Homo sapiens: one gene and its partners. The protein of the gene in region 2 interacts with the protein of the main gene of each other region in a biochemical or structural test. Each region holds a gene or a part of one and is shown on either strand. Other genes may lie near its edges.

What was found.
Region 1: of the proteins of MAP3K1 (region 2) and MAPK8, one has a biochemical effect on the other in vitro, tested with the Homo sapiens proteins (3 studies listed by BioGRID, with this or other methods).
Region 3: of the proteins of MAP3K1 (region 2) and CHUK, one has a biochemical effect on the other in vitro, tested with the Homo sapiens proteins (3 studies listed by BioGRID).

Annotation. Positions count from the first base shown.
Region 1 is NC_000010.11:48,302,549-48,309,681, reverse strand, and holds the start of MAPK8 (mitogen-activated protein kinase 8), read right to left. Parts: upstream 3,006-7,133; 5' UTR 2,861-3,005; intron 2,454-2,860; exon of another isoform or gene 1,394-2,453; intron 1-1,393. UniProt on the Homo sapiens protein: Serine/threonine-protein kinase involved in various processes such as cell proliferation, differentiation, migration, transformation and programmed cell death.
Region 2 is NC_000005.10:56,881,531-56,888,557, reverse strand, and holds part of MAP3K1 (mitogen-activated protein kinase kinase kinase 1), read right to left. Parts: intron 6,989-7,027; coding exon 5,692-6,988; intron 5,032-5,691; coding exon 4,879-5,031; intron 3,895-4,878; coding exon 3,732-3,894; intron 2,627-3,731; coding exon 2,495-2,626; intron 1,181-2,494; coding exon 1,038-1,180; intron 333-1,037; coding exon 201-332; intron 1-200. UniProt on the Homo sapiens protein: Component of a protein kinase signal transduction cascade. Activates the ERK and JNK kinase pathways by phosphorylation of MAP2K1 and MAP2K4. May phosphorylate the MAPK8/JNK1 kinase.
Region 3 is NC_000010.11:100,219,592-100,226,618, forward strand, and holds part of CHUK (inhibitor of nuclear factor kappa-B kinase subunit alpha), read right to left. Parts: intron 6,427-7,027; coding exon 6,332-6,426; intron 3,390-6,331; coding exon 3,275-3,389; intron 2,591-3,274; coding exon 2,521-2,590; intron 1,086-2,520; coding exon 997-1,085; intron 1-996.

The DNA of each region.
Region 1 (7,133 bases), on a different chromosome or scaffold from region 2:
CCTCTTAGCACTAGGATAGTTGGGGACTAGTCATTTAACAACAAATTCCTTCAAGTTGTTTCACTGAACATCTCATCCTCACAAGGTCACTTTGATAATATCAGGCATGGAGCAAATAGTTAAGATTATAACCACATTAATTTGTATACAATTTATTCTTGCACTGACTTCCTTTCCAAATGGCATTTCCCCCAGGATCTAAAGGAGTATGAAGGATATAGTTTCCTATTCTGCCAGGACAGGACATTTAAAAGGAGCCCTTTTCATACTTACTAAAGGAATATATTTACTAACAGAATCGATGCTATATCTCTTACTTTAAAGGATAATTTGAAGTGAAATTCAGAGTGACTGCTAATGGATATGGTGTTTCTTCTTGGGGTGATGACAATGTTCTGGAATTAGTGATGGTGATCAAGGCACAACACTGTGAAAATACTAAAAACCGAAATATATACACTCTAACTGGTGAATTTTATGTCAATTAAATTGCAATAAAGCTATTTTTAAAAACCAACAATTTGGAAAACAAAGTAACACAACTCTGGTTCTTTACACAGCCTGTGAGCTACTGCCAAAGGATTGTCAGTAACCCCTACTAGAATCTGACATACCCTAACTAGGTAAAGCAATAAAACTTTGGTATCTCAAAGATTTTCAACCATCATCTTAAAAAAGTATTATTTTCTTATTTCTTCATTTCCACTTTACAGCAAATAATAAGAAACTCATTAGTTAACTCATTTCATATTCTTTCAAATACAAAACAAACGCTAAACTGTATTTAGTAAGTGGAAAAGAGCTTTAACTTCGATAAATCAATTATTTTGAGTTTTAGGCTCATATTTTGTACCAATTGTGTTAATACAAGTTAGAACTTAAAACCAAACATTTCAAGTAAACATTTCTAAAATATTAGAAATATTTCTAATAAAACATTTATGTGGTTTTGTCCTCAATTTTCCACAATAAGAGTCACCAAAAAACTTTCAAATAATATTCACAAAATTATAAATGCAATCATTTTAGACCCCTACTGAAATACCAGTTTATGAGTGCCTGTGTGTGGATTACGTACATGCACACACACGGACACACATAAACTAGCACATACACAGAAACACACACTCCACAACCTACTTTATTTATCATATTAAAAAAATATTTAGACAAGATTTTATTTTAGGACAGTGAATGACCTACACGTGATTCAAAAGCCCATGTCATCATAACAGATAATGTACATGAACTGACCATTTAGCCATCTGATGCGACAGTTGCATGAAGCTTCCAAAACTTTATGGAGAACATTACGGTTTTTTTTAAGGCTTGATTTTAAATATTATCAATTACAAAGAGCTTTTCATCAATCCGACTTTTATTGAACACTTACTATATTCCAGGCTAGGTGGTGGAGAAACAGATGCAAGACAGGCCTGCCCTCAAGGAAGTCCCATTTTGATTGCTTGCTTTTGTCAGGCACAGCACTAAACATGTTCACTTAGAGCATCTGACCTCCTAGGTTTAACGTTAACCACAGCAGGGGAATCTGAGGTAACCATTACAAATGACTGTAAGGCTGCAAGACTGGAAAAAATAAAATTTAGAAATAAATAAAAGCTGTTGTATATTTAGACCAAATCTAATTCTACTTCCTATTACACTTGAACTTCCAGATATACTGCTTAAAAAATGACCCAGAATATAACCATACCTTCCTTAACAGACATCACTTATGTAACTGTCTCATTTAAAGGTCCATCTATTATACTTCAGTCAAAGCATCCTCTTCCATGAAAGGATACTTTACCTTCACACCAAACCTCTTCATCTGAGTACGGTACTAAACAGCTGCTGAATGAATGAATGAATGAAAAAACAGATGTTCTAATTGCCAAGGAGGTACTTGCTGGATGCTTATCTCAAAACACAATGGACTGACGGACCAGAATTCTACTGGAAAGATCGCTGGATTTCAGAGGTAAAAATAGTAATCACTGGACAATGCCATGTAGTCAACATGTTATTAAATTCGCAGTAAAGACCAAGCAGGGAACTTTCAGAAATAAAAACGGAAAGTGTTCATCAGGGTACTTTAAAATGGACTTGGTTCTACCATCTCTGAATCGGGAACACAAATGCGAGACAAAGAGATGGGAGGGTGGGGTGAAAAAGTCAAAAGGTCACCACCGATGACCCTCAAGAGAAATGCGCGCTGACCACCGAAGCTCGGGCCAAGCTGGATGGACACCTCCCACCCGAGCCACGGGCCTGGGCTCTCTGCCCTGCAGCCCAGAGCTGCAGGCCACTCTGGCCCTTTTCAGCGCTGCTGCCTGCGTTCGCCCAGAACGTTAGCACAAAGAAAGCATCGAGAAGCAAAATACGGTCCCTATGGGCGCGGGGCAGGCTTGGGGACCTGCCGGCAGAAGCGCTCTCCCCGGCTCCCCGCCGCCCCGGAGGCAGCCAGGGCGCGGCGGGCCGCAAAGACACCTCCGTCCGACCCTTGCCGAAGTGTTTCAGAACTTGCCACCCACCCCCCCGCTCCATTTTCTTCTCCCGCCGCGGAGGCAGGACCCACGCGAAGAGGACGCGAGAGGACAGGCGGGCGGGGCTCGCGGCGGCAGGCGGGCTGGCGGGCAGCGGAGCGCACCCAGGTCCCGCAGCCCCACGCCCCCTCGGCTGGCCCCCGCCTCCGCGCCGCTATTGTTCCCGCGCCGCCCCCGCCCACCGCGCGCTCCCGCCCCCACTCCCAGGAGGGGGTTACGGCTGAGGAGAAGGCGGCGGCGGCGGCAGCGGCACAATAACATAAACACGACGGGGCCGCCTGCCGTCCCGGCCCTGCGGCGTCCGCCGCACTCACCCGGCAGCGCAGCGAACGGCGACAGGGAAGCCCGCCAGCGGGGACAGGGGCCGTCCGGGGTGGTCGCCGCGGCCGTTACCCAGCGCTGCTCGCGGCTCCGCAATCCAAGCCGCGTCGTCCGGCCTCGGCCGCTCGGCTGAGTAACAGAGACGCGGGCCGTCACCGCGCACGCCCGCGCACGTCATCGCGCAGGGCCCCGCCCCCGCGCCTCCCGAGCGGCCGGCGGGGCGGGGCAGCCCCGGGGCCCGGATTGCGGGGGCGGGGCCGCCGCCCGGGGACGGCGCTACTCCAGGGGTTACGAGAGGACTTGCGGAGGTCGCTTGGAGGCGGAGCCGCGGAGAGAGCCTCCGAGGGCTGTGGGTGAGGGGCGTGGCCTGGAGCGGGAGGGGCGGGCCCTGTGGCGGCACGTGGCGGCGCGTGGCCCCAGGGGACCGCATCTGGTTGGCGGCGGTAGCCAGGTCAGAGCTTAAGCCTTCGGGCCTCGTCGGCACAGGGTTGAAGGGCAGGTGCGCTTAGGCCTAACCTGCGCAGCGAACAGGCACCCCCTTCCGGTACACACACCTGAGTGATGAAGAGCTGGTTACCTTGACCGACAATATGTTCCATTCTGAGGACACCTGTCCGGGTCCCAGAAACCTACAGAGAGATAAGTGTTCTCTTCAGCTGCCCGGGAAAAGCTGCCTCCAGTTTTTCCAAAATCCACCTCCTCCGAGATTCCTTGCAAATCCACCTCTTCCCAGATTCCTTGCATTACCTGGTTTACTTCTGAGGCCCCACAAAGCGTGTAAATGTTACAGAAGCGATAAATTGACAAGTCCTTTAAATATCCAACAACGGGTGGAAAGGCGTTTGAACTACCTACACCATTCGGTAGAATACATTTTAGCAATTTAAATGCCATGTGTTCAAGGAATTCTTAACAACATAGGAACATGTTCACAATGTATCATTAAGAGAAAGAAGCAAGAAACAAGTCATATATAGAATGGTCCCACTTAGATACTATATATACACATAGAAAAAACCTGGAAAGAAATACACCAAATTATGTTAACAATGGTTCATCATTGGACTATGGAATAAAGGGTGACTTGGTTCTCGTTTATACTTTGGGTATTTTCTCATGTTTTCCGAGAGGAATAGTTATGTTCACAATCAGAAACAAGTAAGTTACTTTAATAATGAATATATAAATATTTGTTGAATAAATGAATGATTTCAGGTAAACTACTTTCCTATTACATGTGGGGCTGGCCTGTTTCTGGTGATTCTGAAAGGGAACATACAGATGATTATTCATTCATTCTCTTCCCATTTCCTCTCTCCCTCCCTCTCAACCTTCTTAATTTCCTTCCTGCCATCCTTTGTTCCTGCAATAATTATTTATTGCATGCCCATTCAGTGCCAGGCAATACAGTAGAGTTTACAGATTTAATCACTGTACTATGAAAGTAATAATAGTAAACGCAAAATTATCACTGTTTTATAATACAAATTGTTAAGGATACATAATACTATGAAACCAATTAATACACTAGTTAATAAGGCCAGAAAAGATTTCCCTGAGGAACTGTCACTTGAGCTGGGAATAGGTTTGACTAGACAGAGAATATTTTAGAGGTAGCTTTGCACGCAAAGGTCCTCTGATGAGATTAAGCAGGATAAGATGGAGAAATTCAGGAAAGGCCAGCTCTGCTGGAGGAGCAAGGAAGAAGGAGCTATGAGATGAAGTCAGGAAGATTGGTAAAGGGACCAAACGTAGGACATCCATATTGGCCATGTTGAAAATCTTTTTATCCTAAGTGCAATGGGAAGCCCCTGACATATTCAGCAAAGGGTGTGGCATGGTCAGAATAGCTTCTTGAAAAGATTCCTTATTGGAAAGAGCCCAGGTGGATGTAGGAGTAGCCTAGACGGTAAGAGGTGGAAGCTTGATCTAGGGTGATGGTCATGGAAATAGTTGATGGACATGGAAAGATCTGTGAATTATTTAGGAGGTCCAACGGGCAGAACTTGCACATTCTCCAAGTGATGGGTTATGTGGGGCAATGAAGGAGAGGGAGTCATCAAGGAAAACTCAAAGGTTTCTGGCTTGTGGCCAAGGATGGATGTTAGTGCTGGTTTACCAAGATGGGAATCTTGGAAAAGGACCAGACTGGCATTAAAATATCATGAGAGCAGGCTGTTTGGCTGTTTGAAGGCTTTTGAGATGCCCAAAACTGATGTTAAGTTGGTGGTTGGATATACAGAGCTGAGGTTCAGCTAGTTAAGAGACGAATCATTGACAGTGAGTGATTCCTTGAAGCCTTGGGATAGATGGGTCAGCCTAGGCCTGAGGAGAGGGCCTGCAACCAGGCTTGGGGAACTTCAGTGTTAAAGGGCCACAAAGGGGAAGATGAGTCTGTGATGAGCTGCCAGGGAGATAGAAGGATAACCAGGAGAGAGGTGTTCAAGAAGAAAGGGCTGATCAATAATATTAAACATAAGAGGAGGCTTGGAATCCTGGAGTAATAGAACCAGAAGTGAATTAGAGTGGGCTGGGAAATGAATGGGAGGTGAGAAAATAAAGGTGGTGAATATGGATGAGTCGGGCAGTGAAGTAGGACACAAGCATATTTTACATCTGATGGGAAGACTGTTGAGAGGGAGAGGTTGAATACACACAAAAGAGAAGGAAGACGTGTGTTTCCAGAGAGAACGGGGTGTGATTGAGTGCACAGACAGAGGTACCACCTACTCTTCACCAGACAAATTAAAGGCCTGGAGGTAACAAAAAACAATACAACCCTTAGAGCTGTTGTGAAGTGAGGGGAGTTGCTGGGAGCAGAGCTCCAGAGTTTCACGCCCAGTTCTGTGATGCTATTGTTAATAACCGCCTCTGTCTCACTCCACAGAGTGAGCTTCTGACTTAGTATCAGTCTACCATGGTCAGCTTCTGATTATCTACAACTAGAAAGAACATTCCACATATTTACATATGTGCGTTTGTGTGTTTGTGTGTGTGTATGATTGATTTCAGAAAGCATTTTGCTATTTCTGATGGAATGTAATTATCTCTGATATTCTGCAAATTCAAAATGCTTTTCTGTAACCCAGATGCAGTGTTGGGCCTTCTTCTTCCTTTTCATGCAATTCTTTCTTGTCAACCTGTTAGGGTTCCTTGTTAACCTATTAAGGGGCTGACTCAGAAAAAGAGGAAAATATAGTGAATTCAGGTTTCTTGTCTCTTGTCCCAGGGGAGCTGTCTTGGGGACACCTGGTCTTTGGATACCTCTGAGGCTGGGATGGGGAAAGGAGAGAAGAGGAACTGTAGGCCTTTCAAACTCAGCCTCTGCTGGAGCCCTGAGGGATGTTCAAGAAGAGGTTGCACTCCACCAGAGTATCTCTTCCCTTGTCATCCCAGACCACACACAATGGATTGCACTGAAGATGTTTCTTTGGCTAAGGTAGTCAGGTGAATATCACCAAGCTGTTCAGGGTGCAGAAACTGAAAGCTGAGACTTCAACTTACTTCCTAATTCCCTGACCTCACCCCAGGGGTGGGGAGTTGGGTTGGTGGGAAGGTACTTACCAACTAAAGCCTGCAGAAGGGCATCTCCAAGGACACTCCCTCTCCCCTGACTCCACCTCCACCACCATCCTTCTCTGTTAGCCTTGCTTTCAAGCCTCCCAGTCTCGTCTCCCACCCATGTCTCCAGTCAAGTCTACTTTTCCCCCAACAGGAGGGAGAGGTTCAGCACCTTGGTCAGTCAGTCCCTGACTCAGGGATGTTCTTTGAGAATCTTTCAAGGTGGAGCCTGCTGGCTCCCGATAAAGCAAGACAGACCCTGGATGCATGAGTAGAGGAAAGATGAGTGTTCGTATTGTAAATCCATCCTCCAGCTGCAAGAACTGTGGCTCCTCAGGGGTAGGAAAGGGCCAAAAATGGCCCGAGCTCCTCAGTCGCAACTTGAACAAAATGAAGTGGAGACAGAATGGGCAGAACTCTGATTTGAAGTTACAAGTGGTACCCTGTTTTTGCTTACAGGTACATGCAAGAGAGAACCAACTAAGCTAGTCAAGTTTATAGATTGAGTACACATGCATATTTCCATGGGAAAAAAAAAAGGTCAGCATTTATTCCTCTAAGACGATGGTTTTCAAATTGTGGTTCCCCAGACCAGCATCAGCTGAGAACTTGTCGAAAATGCAAATTCTCATACTCACCTTAGACCGGCTGAGTGAGAAACCTTGAGGAAGAAGCCCAGCAATCTGTGTTTTAATGAGCCCCCCC
Region 2 (7,027 bases):
ATGGTTTTTACCAAATTTGTATTGCTTTTGCACCATCTTAAAGTAAAAAACTTGTATATCAAATCCTCTCTGAATAAATATACAGACTATTTATTTACCTTCATGCTAGATTGTTAGGGAGAACCCATCAAAATTTGCCTCCTGCCAAATTCTGCTGTACTCCTTTTAGCACAAAGAAGTAATTTTTATCTCACAATTACCTTAAATATCAAAGCAAGATGATTGGAGTGTTTTTCTGCATTCCATGGTGGTTTTGCACAAGCCATTTCTATAATAGCACAGCCAACACTCCATACATCACAGCTCCTTCCATACTGTTGACCTCTTAGTACCTAAAATAAATCAGAGTTAATTTGGAAATAGGACTCATTTGAAAAAGAGAAGGCCATTTTGTAGTTATAGATTCTACTTCCTTACTTTAGGGAGAAAACTGGTACAAACAGGAATTCTGTGGACTACCTAATATCTAATTTATTTCATTAATGAGCTTAATTTTCCAGGTAGCACAAAAATATTTTGGAGAATTGTGAGATTCTGAAGCAGAGTCCCATCACAGAATTTTGCTCTTAGCAAACTATGTGGCAAGAGGACAACAGATCATTACTACATATGAACATGAAGAATTATGAACACGACAGAAGAAGCTGAGTCAGAAGAACAATGCTTAAACTCCTTCCACTACAGACAGGAGCTGCCTCTGTATGCTCATCTCCTTTTAGAATAGAGAGAGAATATTTTTAAAAATTTCTTATGTGCACTTTGAGTTTATTACAAAACAACTGCTATAAATTACCCCAGAATTCTTTATTAGTAACAGCCGTTAAGTAAATCTATTAAAACCTGTTTTTTGAATATTGCCAAGGCAAAGAAAGGTCGAGAATAAGGGTCTGAAAGATATTATTAAAACCGTATTTTAAGGGCCACGGACTTCTAGTTGGTAAGTACATACTGGATACCACTGCAAGATAATTTAGTATAATGCTGTTACACAGAATTCCAAAATATTTTCTGTCATCACACTCAAAGATGCTTCTCACCTCAGGTGCCATAAATGCAATTGTCCCCAGTAATTGTCCCTGAAACTCTCCTGCACCAGTTCCTTTTGATGCCAACCTGGCTGCAGCTCCAAAATCTGCAATTCTTAGTCTCTGACCAGTGCTGTCAATTAGCAAATTGGCACCTGTCAACAAACACAGCAAATGACCTTGTATGTTAAAAACAAAAATAAGGACAGATAAAAGCCCAGTACAATACTAATGAACTAGGACAATGACAAAAGAAAGAAGTGAACTACATGTCAGAGGTGCAAACAGTTATTCTCTTTTCCTTTCACTTCATTCTTGCTAAAGGCACACAGCTCTCTCTAGCGTACGCTAAATTCATAATTAGAGCTTAATTTAAAAAGTTATAAAATTACTTCAACACATTATGTCAAATACTAGCTAAAAAGACTAATGACAGAAAACCAAATTTGCTCTTGAGAAAAATAAACTGAGGCCAGGTACGGTGGCTGACGCCTGTAATCTCAGCACTGTGGGAGGCTGAGGCAAGCGGGTCGCTTGAGCCCAGGAGTTCAAGACCAGCCTGGGGGCAACATGGCAAAACCCCATCTCTACAAAAAATATAAAAAATTAGCCAGGCATGGTGGTGCACACCTGTTGTCCTAGCTACTTGGGAGGCTGAGGTGGGAGGATCACTTGAGCCCAGGAAATGAGTTACAGTGTGCCAAGTTTGCAACACTACACTCCAGCCTGAGTGACAGAGAACCTGTCTCCAAAAAAAAGAAAAGGATAAGGAAAATAATGGGACCTACAAAGGATTTGAAGGAATTTTTCTTAAAAGAAGTTGATGATATCCCAATATCCCAATTATTCAAAATAAAACCAGGAAAAGGAACTTTCTGGGAGTCAGCGTATCATGAGGCCAAGACAGGGAATCTGGAGACCTGTGTTGTATACTTTCTGCCATTAACTAGCAATAAAACTGTAGAAAAGGCACAGCCTCTCTTGTATTCAATGTACTTTTCTATTAAACGAGGAAGGCAGATTAAATGATCCCTAAGGCTCATTTCAGTTCTAATATTCTGAATTACTCAGAGAAAAAAATCCCACTGTTAGAAACTATCAACAAAGGTCCATTTTTTTGTTCTTCTTTGAGACAGAGTCTCACTCTGTCACCCAGGCTAGAGTGCAGTGGTGTGATCTCAGCTCACTTCAACCTCTGCCTTCCGGGTTCAAGCAATTCTCCTGTCTCAGCCTCCCAAATAGCCAGGATTACAGGCATGCGCCACCTTACCCTGTTAATTTTTGTATTTTTAGTAGAGACAGGGTTTCACCATGTTGGCCTGGCTGGTCTCGAGCTCCTGACCTCAAGTGATCCACCTGCCTTCACCTCCCAAAGTACTGGGATTACAGGTGTGAGCCACTGTGCCTGGCCCCAAATTTTAAAATTAATTTTTTTATTGTCACTAGATAATAATTAGAAGAATTCTCACCTTTGACATCTCTGTGAATGATTTGGTTTTCATGGAGATACGAAAGGCCACGGAGTAACTGTTCAGTGTAGTTAATAACTACTGATTCTTTGAAGGCTCCATATTTACTCAGCAAATGAGCCACCGATCCCCCTATAAGACAATAGAAATAATTATCATAAACTTAAGACAGAATTAAAAGTATTTATTACACTTTGGTTTCTAAAGTTTTCACTGCATGAACTCACATTCACATCTGAAACAGAAGAAAAACATTTCAAAACTAACATATTCCTGTATCATCTCAAAAACCTACTAATTAGGAGACATTTTCACAGAACCCACAGGGAAACCAGTTTATTGGAGAGTCAAGATTTCAGAAAGCTGTAAAAGTTAACAATTTCGGATTAAACTATTTCTGAAATGTACAATTCAATTCTCTGTCTTCTCAAAATACACAAAACAACTTTATTAATGACTAAAGTAAACAATGTTAACATATTATGTAGTAAAAGGTGGAAAGAATGGGAGGAGGAACAGAAAACCCAGAGTTAGGCGTCATATTCTACCATTTACTAGCTCTGACCTGGAACATGTCTCAAATTTAGCCGCTTTTAAAAGTGTTTATAGTAGTCAACCTATCTACTGTAGTGTAAATCTTTATTAAGACCAACCAACAGATAACATACTTAAGAACTGACTGGTAAAGAGAAATGCACTCTTAAATACACACACAAATCTAAGAAGTTAAACCAAACAATCTGTTCATCACATCAGGTCATTAATTTTATTGTATACATTGTATAATACAAAATAAAACTCAGTCTTCATTTATTTCAGCAGATGACAAGGTTCAACTTTATGCTTCAGTGCTAGTTTACTTGTAGTAAGTTTTCAAGTTATATGTTAATTTTGTTTGTATATTGTTATGTTAAAACACTTCCTCATCTGTCCAATTTATCATGGCTACCTGGAAATATACATATCTTATACATATCAAGTATTAAAAACAACAATGCTACACAATCATTTAAAAACACACTGGAAAAATTTAAAAGGTAGAGGTAGTCAATATTTCATTTATAGTAAATGAAATACAAAACGAAGTATTTGTGGTTCATACTAATATATTGGGGTGATTTGTTTTTAGAAACCCAAACTATTTGATAGAAATAAATTTTAATTAAACTGGTTTTTCCTAAATTGCAGAAAGTTAAATCCACGTACTACTATTTTGTAATTTAAAACATTAACATACCTGCCATCCATTCAATGAAGAGATTGTAATTGCTCTTCTCACACGTGGCTCCCAACATCCTAATGATGTTTGGATGATTCAGATGGCTCATCATTCTTATCTCTTCTCTTAGTGCTTCTACTACTTCTTCTTGCTCAGAAGATGTGTTTCTGACATAAGTCACCTGTTTCAAATAAACACGTTCACAAAGTTTTGCATATTTTCACTAGCAATCTGATCTAAAATGAACAAATGCAAACTAGCACTTTATTAGCAACAGATGGCATTTATGCTTATGGATGCAATGTACTTTAAACAAACCCAAGTCAAACTCTTTTAAACACTAAGAATCTAGCTTAAGCAGCAGTAAACATCAGAAAAATGACAAAAATATTGGGATATAGTCAATATTCCAATAGTCTCAGAGTAAAGATGAGAAAAGCCCAAATATGGGAGAAGAATCAACATGATTTAAAAATGAAAGTTTAATAATTTTCCTATCCTGATTAAGTATGCTCGTTATAATAAAAAGTAAACCACTGAAACCCCAAGATGGCACCGCACAAGTACACTGTTGAAAGAAGTACCTGAAAACCACCTCTACTACCTACAAAAAGCAAAACCAAAAAAACCTTTGTAAGGCCCATCTTGATATTGTAGTCTTACAATAATCATACTTCAACTTTTATTTATTTTTTTTTGAGACAGTCTTGCTCTGTTGCTCAGGCTGGAGTACAGTGGTGCGATCTCGGCTCACTGCAACCTCTACCTCCTGAGTTCAAGCAATTCTTCTGTCTCAGCCTCCTGAGTAGCTGGGACTACAGGTGCCTACCACCCTGCCCGGCCGATTTTTGTATTTTTAGTAGAGGTAGGGTTTCACCATGCTGGCCAGGCTGGTCTTGAACTCCTGGCCTCAAATGATCCAACCACCTTGGCCTCCCAAAGTGCTGGGATTACAGGTGTGAGCCACCACGCGTGGCCTCAACTTTTAACAATAACAGAATTCATGATGTTTCTGGTGCTTTAGAAACATCTACTTTGAAACTAAGTTTCTCAAAGTTTAAAGAACTAAAGTACACACACGTGGACATATCCTTTATTCTTTTTACTGAACATGCTTCATTTTGTGATTTGAGTCATTTCATTTATATGCTCACTAGATATTTACCTGTTTAACAGCCATTAAAGTTCCAGTTCCCACATCTTGAGCCTGATAACAAGAAGAAAATGCTCCAAGGCCTATCTGTTGACCTTTCAGCCATTCAGTGTCTTCTCTATACGGTTGTTTTGCTTTGGTATGTCCTGGTAGAGTCTCTGGTGTCTACATATTAAACGAAAGCAATCTTTTTACTGTTAAAGGAGTAAGATTTTGTGAAATTAGTCTGCAAGATATTATTCTTATTCAGTCTGGCTTCCCAAACCACCTATAAATGTGACCTCTGAATGGAAGGTATTTGTGACCGACAGCAAATGCAAAAGTAATCACCATTATACAATTAACCGGAAATGCCCATAGGCAAGAATTATTGCTGTTTAAACAGTACAAACATTATTGTTGTATAAGTAATAATTTTATGTGGAAAACTCTGCTTCTGAATGTTAGAAGCAGCATTTCTGAATTAGGTTTATTTTAGTATGGTCCAAGGAAGCTCTCTGTGAGACAGTGTCTTGCTCTGTCATTCAGGCTAGAGTACAATGGTGTAATCACAGCTCACTGTAGCCTCAAACTCCCAGGTTCAAGTGACCCTCCCCACCTCAGCTTCCTGAGTAGCTGGGACCCCAGGTGTACACTATCATGCCTGGCTAATTTTTAAAATTTTTTGTAGAGACAGGGTCTTGCTTTGTTGACCAGGCTAGTTTCGAACTCCTGTGCTCAAGCAATCCTTCGGCCTCAGCCTCCCCAAGTGCTGGAATTCCAGGTATGAGTCACTGTGCCCAGCCCCAAGGAAGTTTTCTAACCTCTTAAAGAATCTATACTTACATCCTGTTGAATAATGATGATATCTTCTCCATTTTCAACCTGCAGCTGAGGAACTATGGGGAGGGCATCCTGAGACGCTGACATTGCCATGGCAATTGCTAAAGCTTCTTCTTCTTCAGCTTCCATCTTCTCTTTGCACTTTTGATTATGATTCACATCATCTTTGTAGGTATCATCATTTTCAGCCTTTTCAGGAGACAGGACAGCAACTTCTGACTTAAAAGTTACTGTTGTATCACTTGAAGGCATAGATGCTTCAAGAAGGTCCTCAATACTGGAGTTGAGCTCTGTATTGACATCTAATCTGCATTTCTCCTCTACTGGGGTGAACACTGTCTCGTCACTGGGTATAACAGCATTACTACTATTGCTGCTACAGCCAAAGCTGTCATCACATTTGGAACTACTGTTCAGATCAAGTGTCATGCTATTTTTTGAGGGATCTCCCTGTTTACTTGTATTACCTGGGGTAGGTCTAGATGGCTTTGGCCTGTGTATGTTACTGGAGGGCAAGGGTCTTGACTGAGTAAAGACTGGGGAAAGTTTATCTGAGTCTTTGTTTTCAGGACAGTTTCTGTGGAATTGTAGAGAAAACTTGCGCTGTGTTTGAGGAGATGCAGAAGGTATTCTGCAGGGAATGAATCCCTGAAGTCTATGCTTAGAGACATCTGTTGCAGTGCCAGCTGGTACAGATGGGGTAGAAGAAGAAGGGGTTGACAAGGCTGGAAACATTAATTGGGAATGATGAGATAAAGGAGAGGAGTTCAAACACTGACTGTGGGGTCTGCCTTTTGTTTGAACCATTGGCTTTGGTTGCTCTGTTGTTGTTGTTGTTGTTGTTGTTGAACTAGAAGGTCCTACTGAAATGCTGGCCAGTCTCTCAGAAATGTCCTCTGAACTGGCACTCAATTTTGTAGCACATAATCCTTTTCCAGTTTTCTCTAAATGGACTGTGCACTCAGGGGAACTGTTCTCTGTGGTTTCCAGATAGTTGTTGGGAACAGATGCCTGCAAGAAGCTGTCCTGTTGACCATCCAAAGTGTCTTCTACGCCCAACTGGATGGCTTCGGCAATTTCCACCTCATCTGCAATAGCCATCAAACGGCGACGCATCCTGGTGAAGTGAGTGGAACTGGAAACACTCAGCATTTCTAACAGTTTTGAAAACACATGGGGTACTGTAGTAACCATTCTTGCAGAACTCAAGTAGATCCTTCTGGAAAGTTTGCCAACCATTGAGTGGGAATTATCAATGGACTGCAAAGCAAAGGTTAAGAGGGACAGCAGCTTCTTATACCTGAAAGAAAAAAACATTCATTACCATATAAGTTCCAAT
Region 3 (7,027 bases), on a different chromosome or scaffold from region 2:
ATTGTTATTAGGATCCAATGAAATAACGAAAGTAAAGAAGGTAACACAGTGCTTGGTACATGGTAAAAATTGAATACAGGTGGGCTATTAATTTTTATTTTACTATATTCAAAATAAGCTCAATCCATTAAACTGGAAAGTAAAGGCAAGGGTGACTTCCAAACTTGAAGAAGCATCATACCTCCTTATAGTAGATTAAATGTGAGTAAATACTTAGATCTAACTTCAGGAATGTCCTGAAGTCTTTGGATTAAAAAAAAAAAAAGCAGAGATATTTGGTGCCAAGCATACGTGAAAGGTTCCTAAGAGAAGAGGCATCACCAAGGTTCCAACACCTCCAAGAGGCCAACAACTATTTTCACTAACTAAAGAGACGGCACACACAACTCAACACAAGGTTCAGACTCTTGGCCTTTAAGTCTTTATTGGAATGAAATTTGGATGCTGGAAACAAGAAAACTGCTTAAGTTACCAATGAAATGAACATTTTAAGAGTCAATTCACAATTTCTGGTTCTTCTCCAGATGACTCATTTAAATTGGGGGAAGGAAAATAAGTTTTAAAAATATATATACTTTCTTTTTTTTCTTAAAGTGGACCCAGGATGTGCATGTATGTGTTTTGGATGTGCTTCATAAGAATAAAATAATAAGTGTTAACATATTATGTATTCACAGCCTGTATCTTTGCTAGATACTATGATGGAAAAACAGACTTGAACAAGACAGGTGAAGTCTAGGAGCTGGGTTAAGTATGAAAAATGAAAAAAAAGAAAAAGAAAAAAAAAGCAGGTGCTGTTCCTTCTCTGATGGAACCACTGTTTAGCAGAAGGGACAAAAAAACTAAACACAAAACTACAGTTCAGTGTGGTGAGGTCTGAAATGGAAAAAGTAAGACTGTTATGGGCATACAGCAAAGACACCAAAGCTCAAGGACTAACTATATCAGAGAGACTATATTCAATAGGCATGAAACATTACTTCAGGTTTCACCTACCTTTCCACCAACATCCTGAAGAACTATGTTTTCAGGTTTTAGATCTCGATGTATAATTTTGTTTTCATGCAAATATCGAATCCCAGACCCTAAATAAAGTTTAAAATATACTTTAAAGTAACAGAAATCATTGAGTTAAAAGAAAAATTCACCTCACATTTTGTACAAATCTACTCTGATGCTCAAGTTTATATGGATCATCGTAACTACACAACTAATACTACAGTGTCCAGGTTTTCTTCACAGAAAAAAAAGTAACATTAAACAAATACTACAAAATTATACTATATGTTCATTTAACTCATTAGAATTAACACCAAATAGAAATGCAACAAGCAATTGGGAAAATCCCTGAAACTCTTATAAGCCTCTTTCTCCCACCTAAATCACTCATTTCAATTGGACTTTAGCCCTCATGACCTTGGAAAAGAGGCAAAACCAAAATCTATGGGGAAACAAATTTTTGGTTTTTGAGGTTCCTCCAAAAGGTTAGGTACTGGTTATTTTAGGAATTTTTCTGGAGTCATTCTGATTAAGCAGAGATTTTTCACCCTGAAGAGTTGACTTGGCTGGGTGCGGTGGCTCACGCTTGTAATCCCAGCACTTTGGGAGGCCGAGGCGGGCAGATCACGAGGTCAGGAGTTTGAGACCAGCCTGGCCAACACAGTGAAACCCCGTCTCTGTTAAAAATACAAAAATTAGCCAGGTGTGATGGCGGGCACCTGTAATCCCAGCTACTCGGGAGGCTGAGGCAGGAGAATCGCTTGAACCTGGGAGGCAGAGGTTACAGTAAGCTGAGATCGCACCACTGCACTCCAGCCTGGGCAACAGAGCTAGACTCCGTCTCAAAACAAACAAACAAAAAAGAGTTGACTTGAGGACCCATCCCTCAAGGAGATGTAATTCCACTGTAAACAAAATTACTATGTCAATGGTAGGGGGGGAGAGAAATTGAGTAAGGTCATTTCACATGATTTTTTTGTCAGCTATTGGAACATCTATTAGACAAAAAAAGGACTCTTAGCCACAAATAAATAATAAAATATCCTAGTTTCTTTTTGTGTGTGTGTGACAAAGTCTCACTCTGTTGTCCAAGCTGGAGTGCAGTGGTGCAATCTCGGCTCACTGCAACCTCTATCTCCTGGGTTCAAGCGATTCTCCTGCCTCAGCCTCCCGAGTAGCTGGGACTACAGGCATGCGGCATTGTGCCCAGCTAATTTTTGTATTTTTAGTAGAGATGGGGTTTCACTATGTTGGCCAGGCTGGTCTTGAACTCCTGACCTTGTGATCCGCCTACCTTGGCCTCCCAAAGTGCTGGGATTACAGGCGTGAGCCACCGCACCTAGCCAAAATATCCTAGTTTTAATTTAGCATCAATAGTAATAGATTTTTATAACTTCTTATAGATGTTGAAATTCTATAGACTTTGTATAGTGTATCAACAATTCTCCTGAATTCCCAAAAAGATCTTTTATGGGCCAAAGGGACATTACATTACAATGGTATTTTAATACTGATACGTACCTATATCACTTAGTAAAGAAAGTATCTGGCTTTCTTTAAGTCCACAACAATTTTCTGGTTTGTTGAGCAGCTAAAAAAAGAAAGAAATCTAAAAATCTGTTCTGCAAATTGCTGGGCTGCAATAGTGACCACACATTAATTACTATACTCTAAAAGAATATTCAAATGAGAAAATAAGTCATAATAAAATACAAGGGAATAAAATTACCAAATCCATACTGAGGGCATGTAAATTTCATGATAAGGCTCATAAAAGTAAAAAGAGGCAAAAAGCATTTGAAACTGGAAAAGGCTGACAAATCTCATGGATATATATAAAAATGGTCATATGGGCACATTTAAAATTAGGTAGAAAAAAAAGATTGCAATACAGAAAACAACTTTTTATAAGCACCTTAACCACTGAAATTTTCATCTAACACCATTGCTATAGTCCCATCAAACAGCAACAACAAAAATGCATTTTCTAAATCAGGAGTCAACATTTTCTGTAAGGAACCATATGGTAAATACTTTAGGTTTTGCAAGTCACATAGTCTCTGTTAAAACTACTCACTTCTGCAGCCATAAGAAAGCAGCCATAGACAATGTGTAAAGAAATGAATGTGGCTGTGTTCCAATAAAACTTTATTTACAAAACAGGAAGCAGACCATAGTTTTTCCGATTCTTATTCTAGTTTATTATATTTAACATGATTCAAACATTGCTAAAGTTTGTGATTTACTCTCTCTCATCTCAAAACATCCACACTACCTTTCGGAGATCTCCTCCAGAACAGTATTCCATTGCTAGAAGAGGCACATCATGAATCAAAATATTCAATTCTTCAGGAACATCACAGGCCTTTACAACATTGGCATGGTTCAACCTAATAAGAAAGAAAAACATTACAATAAAAAAAATTATTTCCAATAAAAAGGGACTGGATTTGAAATGCTACTTAATTGTGGGTGGATGAACAGAGGGGGAAAGATCAGTATTATTTATAATATTCTAATTTCTGATTTGTATAATTAAAAATTAGTAATTTTTTAAAAGAAAACACACATAAAAATACCATCACTATTACTACTATTACATTTCTAAGTGCCAAGCAGTAAACATTTTAAATATATTAACTCAGTTACTTGTCACAATAATCCTATTATAGGTAGATTTATTAATACTTTCACCACACAGGAGAAAATTGAAGCACAAATTGGCTAAGTAACAAGATCACACAGTGAGTAAGTCAAATCTGGCGTTCTAGGCTGGGTGTAGTTGTAACTGTAATCCCAACAATTTGGGAGGCTGAGGTGGGAGGATTGCTTGAGGCCAGGAGTTCGAGATCAGCATGGGTAACACAGTGAGACCTCATCTCTACAAAAAATTAAAAATTAGCCGGGTGTGGTGGCGCATGCCTATAGTCCCAGCTACTCCAGAGGCTGAGGTGGGAGGACTGCTTGAGCCCAGGAGTTCAAGTCAAGCCTGGGTAACATAGCAAGACCACATCTCTTTTAAAAAAAAAAAGAAAAAAAGAAAAAGAAGCAAACAGAATTTCCATGTACATGTAGGACCTGATAATTTATACTATTAAGCTTTCCTGGTGATTCTGCCACATAACCAAGTTTGAGAATCAAAATGGAATTAAGCACAGATATTAGAGTCAGAAAGTATTTATTTCAAATCCACACTTTACCAACCACCAGCTATGTGATTCTATAAGCTTCAACTTCCTCATTTGCAAAATAATACCTAAATATAAGATTGCTGTGATAACTGGAAGAATGATCTGTAAAGTACTTAGCACACTACCTGTGGAAGTTTTAAAATATGTCTACTTCTCTTTTTAAGAGCTTAACTCTCCTCCCCTTGAATGTAGGCTGTACTTAGTGACTCACTGTAACAAACAGAATGTGGTGGAAAAGGATGGAGTCTCACTTCCAAGTAAAGATCATAAAAGATACGTCGGTTTTCATCTTGCTCGCTCGTTCACTCTCTCTCTCTCTCTCTCTCTCTCAGATCACTCACTCTTTCTGAGGAAAAGATCTTTCTGGGGAAAGCTAGCTTCCATGTCATGAAAACATTCAAGCTTCCCCATGAAGAGGCCCACATGGCGAAGAACTGATGCTTTTGGCCAACATTCATATAAGTGAGCATGGAAGCAGATACTCCAGCCCCAGTCAAGCCTTTGGATTACTGCAGCTCCGACCAATATCCTGAGATGTCTCAGGAAAGACTCTAAGCTAGAATCACCCAGCTAAGCCACTCCCAAATTCCTAAGTCACAGAAACTATAAGATACTAAATGTTTGCTATTTTAAGCCACTAAATGTTGGGGTAATTTATTTTTTATTATTTATTTATTTATTTAGAGACGGAGTCGCCCAGGCTGGAGTGCAGTGGTATGATCTCAGCTTACCGCAACCTCCGCCTCCCGGGTTCAAGCAATTCTCCTCCCTCGGCCTCCCAAGTAGCTGGGATTACAGGCACCCGCCACCACACCTGGCTAATTTTTGTATTTTTAGTAGAGATGGGGTTTTGCCATGTTGACCGGGCTGGTCTCAAACTCCTGACCTCAGGTAATCCATCCGCCTTGGCCTCCCAAAGTGCTGGGATTATAGGTGTGAGCCACCACGCCCGGCCCTAGCTGACTTTTGTTAACTGAAATGAAATAGTTTTTTGATTGTGGTAAAACACACATAGCATAAAATTTACCACCTTAACCATTTTTAAGTGTACAGTTTAGTGGCATCAAGATGCTTTCCTTTTTTTTCAGACAGGGTCTTGCTCTTGTCACCCAGGCTGGAGTACAGTGGTATGATCTCAGCTCACTGTAGCCTTGACCTCCTGGGCTCAAGCAATCTTCCCACCTCAGCCTCCCAAGTAACTGGGACTACGGGCATGCACCACCACACATAGCTAGTTTTTATATTTTTTGTAGAGATGGGGTTTTGCCATGTTGCCCAGGCTGGTCTCGAACTCCTGAGCTCAAGCAATCCACCCACCTCAGCCTCTCAAAGTGTTGGAATTACAGTGTGAGCCAACATGCCCAGCCTGGCATCAAATACTTTCACAATGTTTTGCTACTATCACTATACTGCACAAAACTGTTTAATTCTGCAAAGCTGAAACTCCGCACCTATTAAAAATTATTCTCTATTTGCTGGTCCCTTCACCCTCTGGCAAACACCATTCTACTTTCTTTCACTGTGAGTTTGACTACTCTAGGTACCACACATAAGTGGAATGACACAGTATTTGTCTTTTTGTGACTGGCTTATTTCATTTAGCATAATGTCCACAAGATTCATCCATGCTGTGGCATGTGTCAGAGTTTCATTCCTTTTTAAGGCTGCATGATATTCCGTTTCATGAATATACCACATTTTGTTTATACATGTCTCTGCTGGTAGATACTGGGTTGCTTTTACCTTTCAGCTATTGTGAATAATAATGTTATGAATATGAGTGTACAAATTACTCTTTAAGTCCCTGCTTTCAATTCATTTTTGTATATACCCAGAAATGGAATTGCTGGATCATATGGTAATTCTATTTTTAATTTTTTAGGAATCACCGTACTGTTTTCCGTAACAGTTGCACAATTTTACATTCCCACCAACAGTGTGTAAGTGTCCTAGCTGATTTTAACTAAACCTTCTTAATCTTAATGTGATATTATTATTTGAAATAGAATATATTTAATGAGAGAAAAAAATATATGTTCCCAAAAAGATCCTGAGAAGAGTGGATTCCTGGCCTCTTTCCCCATGATGACATCTGGTTGGGCTGTAGAACCAGGGAAATGTAAGTCAAGGAATACACTTACTTCTTCATAATCTGGATTTCATGGCACCATCGTTCTCTGTTTTTGGTACTTAGCTCTAGGCGACAAGACTTAATTGCTATTTTGAGATCAAGTTCCTGCCAAAATAGAAAATCAACAGAAAAAAAAAATTAGGTTCTTGTGAAGATTTATTTGCTACCAAAGAAATAACTTAAGACAACAAAACTTTTTAGCTTTACTAATTAAATATATTTATCCACAGCTCTCTTGAGGCAATGCTTTTTAAAAAGATAAACCATGAGACTATTACACCAATGCTTTAAAACTGACCTTCAAACACACAACAGCATACAAGGGAAAAGTGCCTGAAACTGATTTTATAACAGGTCTTTTCAGAACTCTCTCTCATATATAATGTTAGAAAAAAAAAGATCCTGTCTCCTCAGCAAACCCCTTTCAGAGCTTAATCAAGACAACTAATATGTGCCCCAGCTTCTAGCATAACTAAAATGAAGAAGGTAATTCAGGGCTTCCTGGACTCCAAACAGCAAGAGAAAGTTTTAATATAACCAAGCCTAAAGCAAAAAACTCCAATCCTAATGTATGCATTTCAAATGACATGAAGAAAAAAAATCCTACCAATGAGTGTACTTCTGCTTCCATAGCTACATAATGAACCTAACATCTCTTGCCTGTGACTAGTAATTTAGCCAATTCTGACTGAAATTAAACCCATTC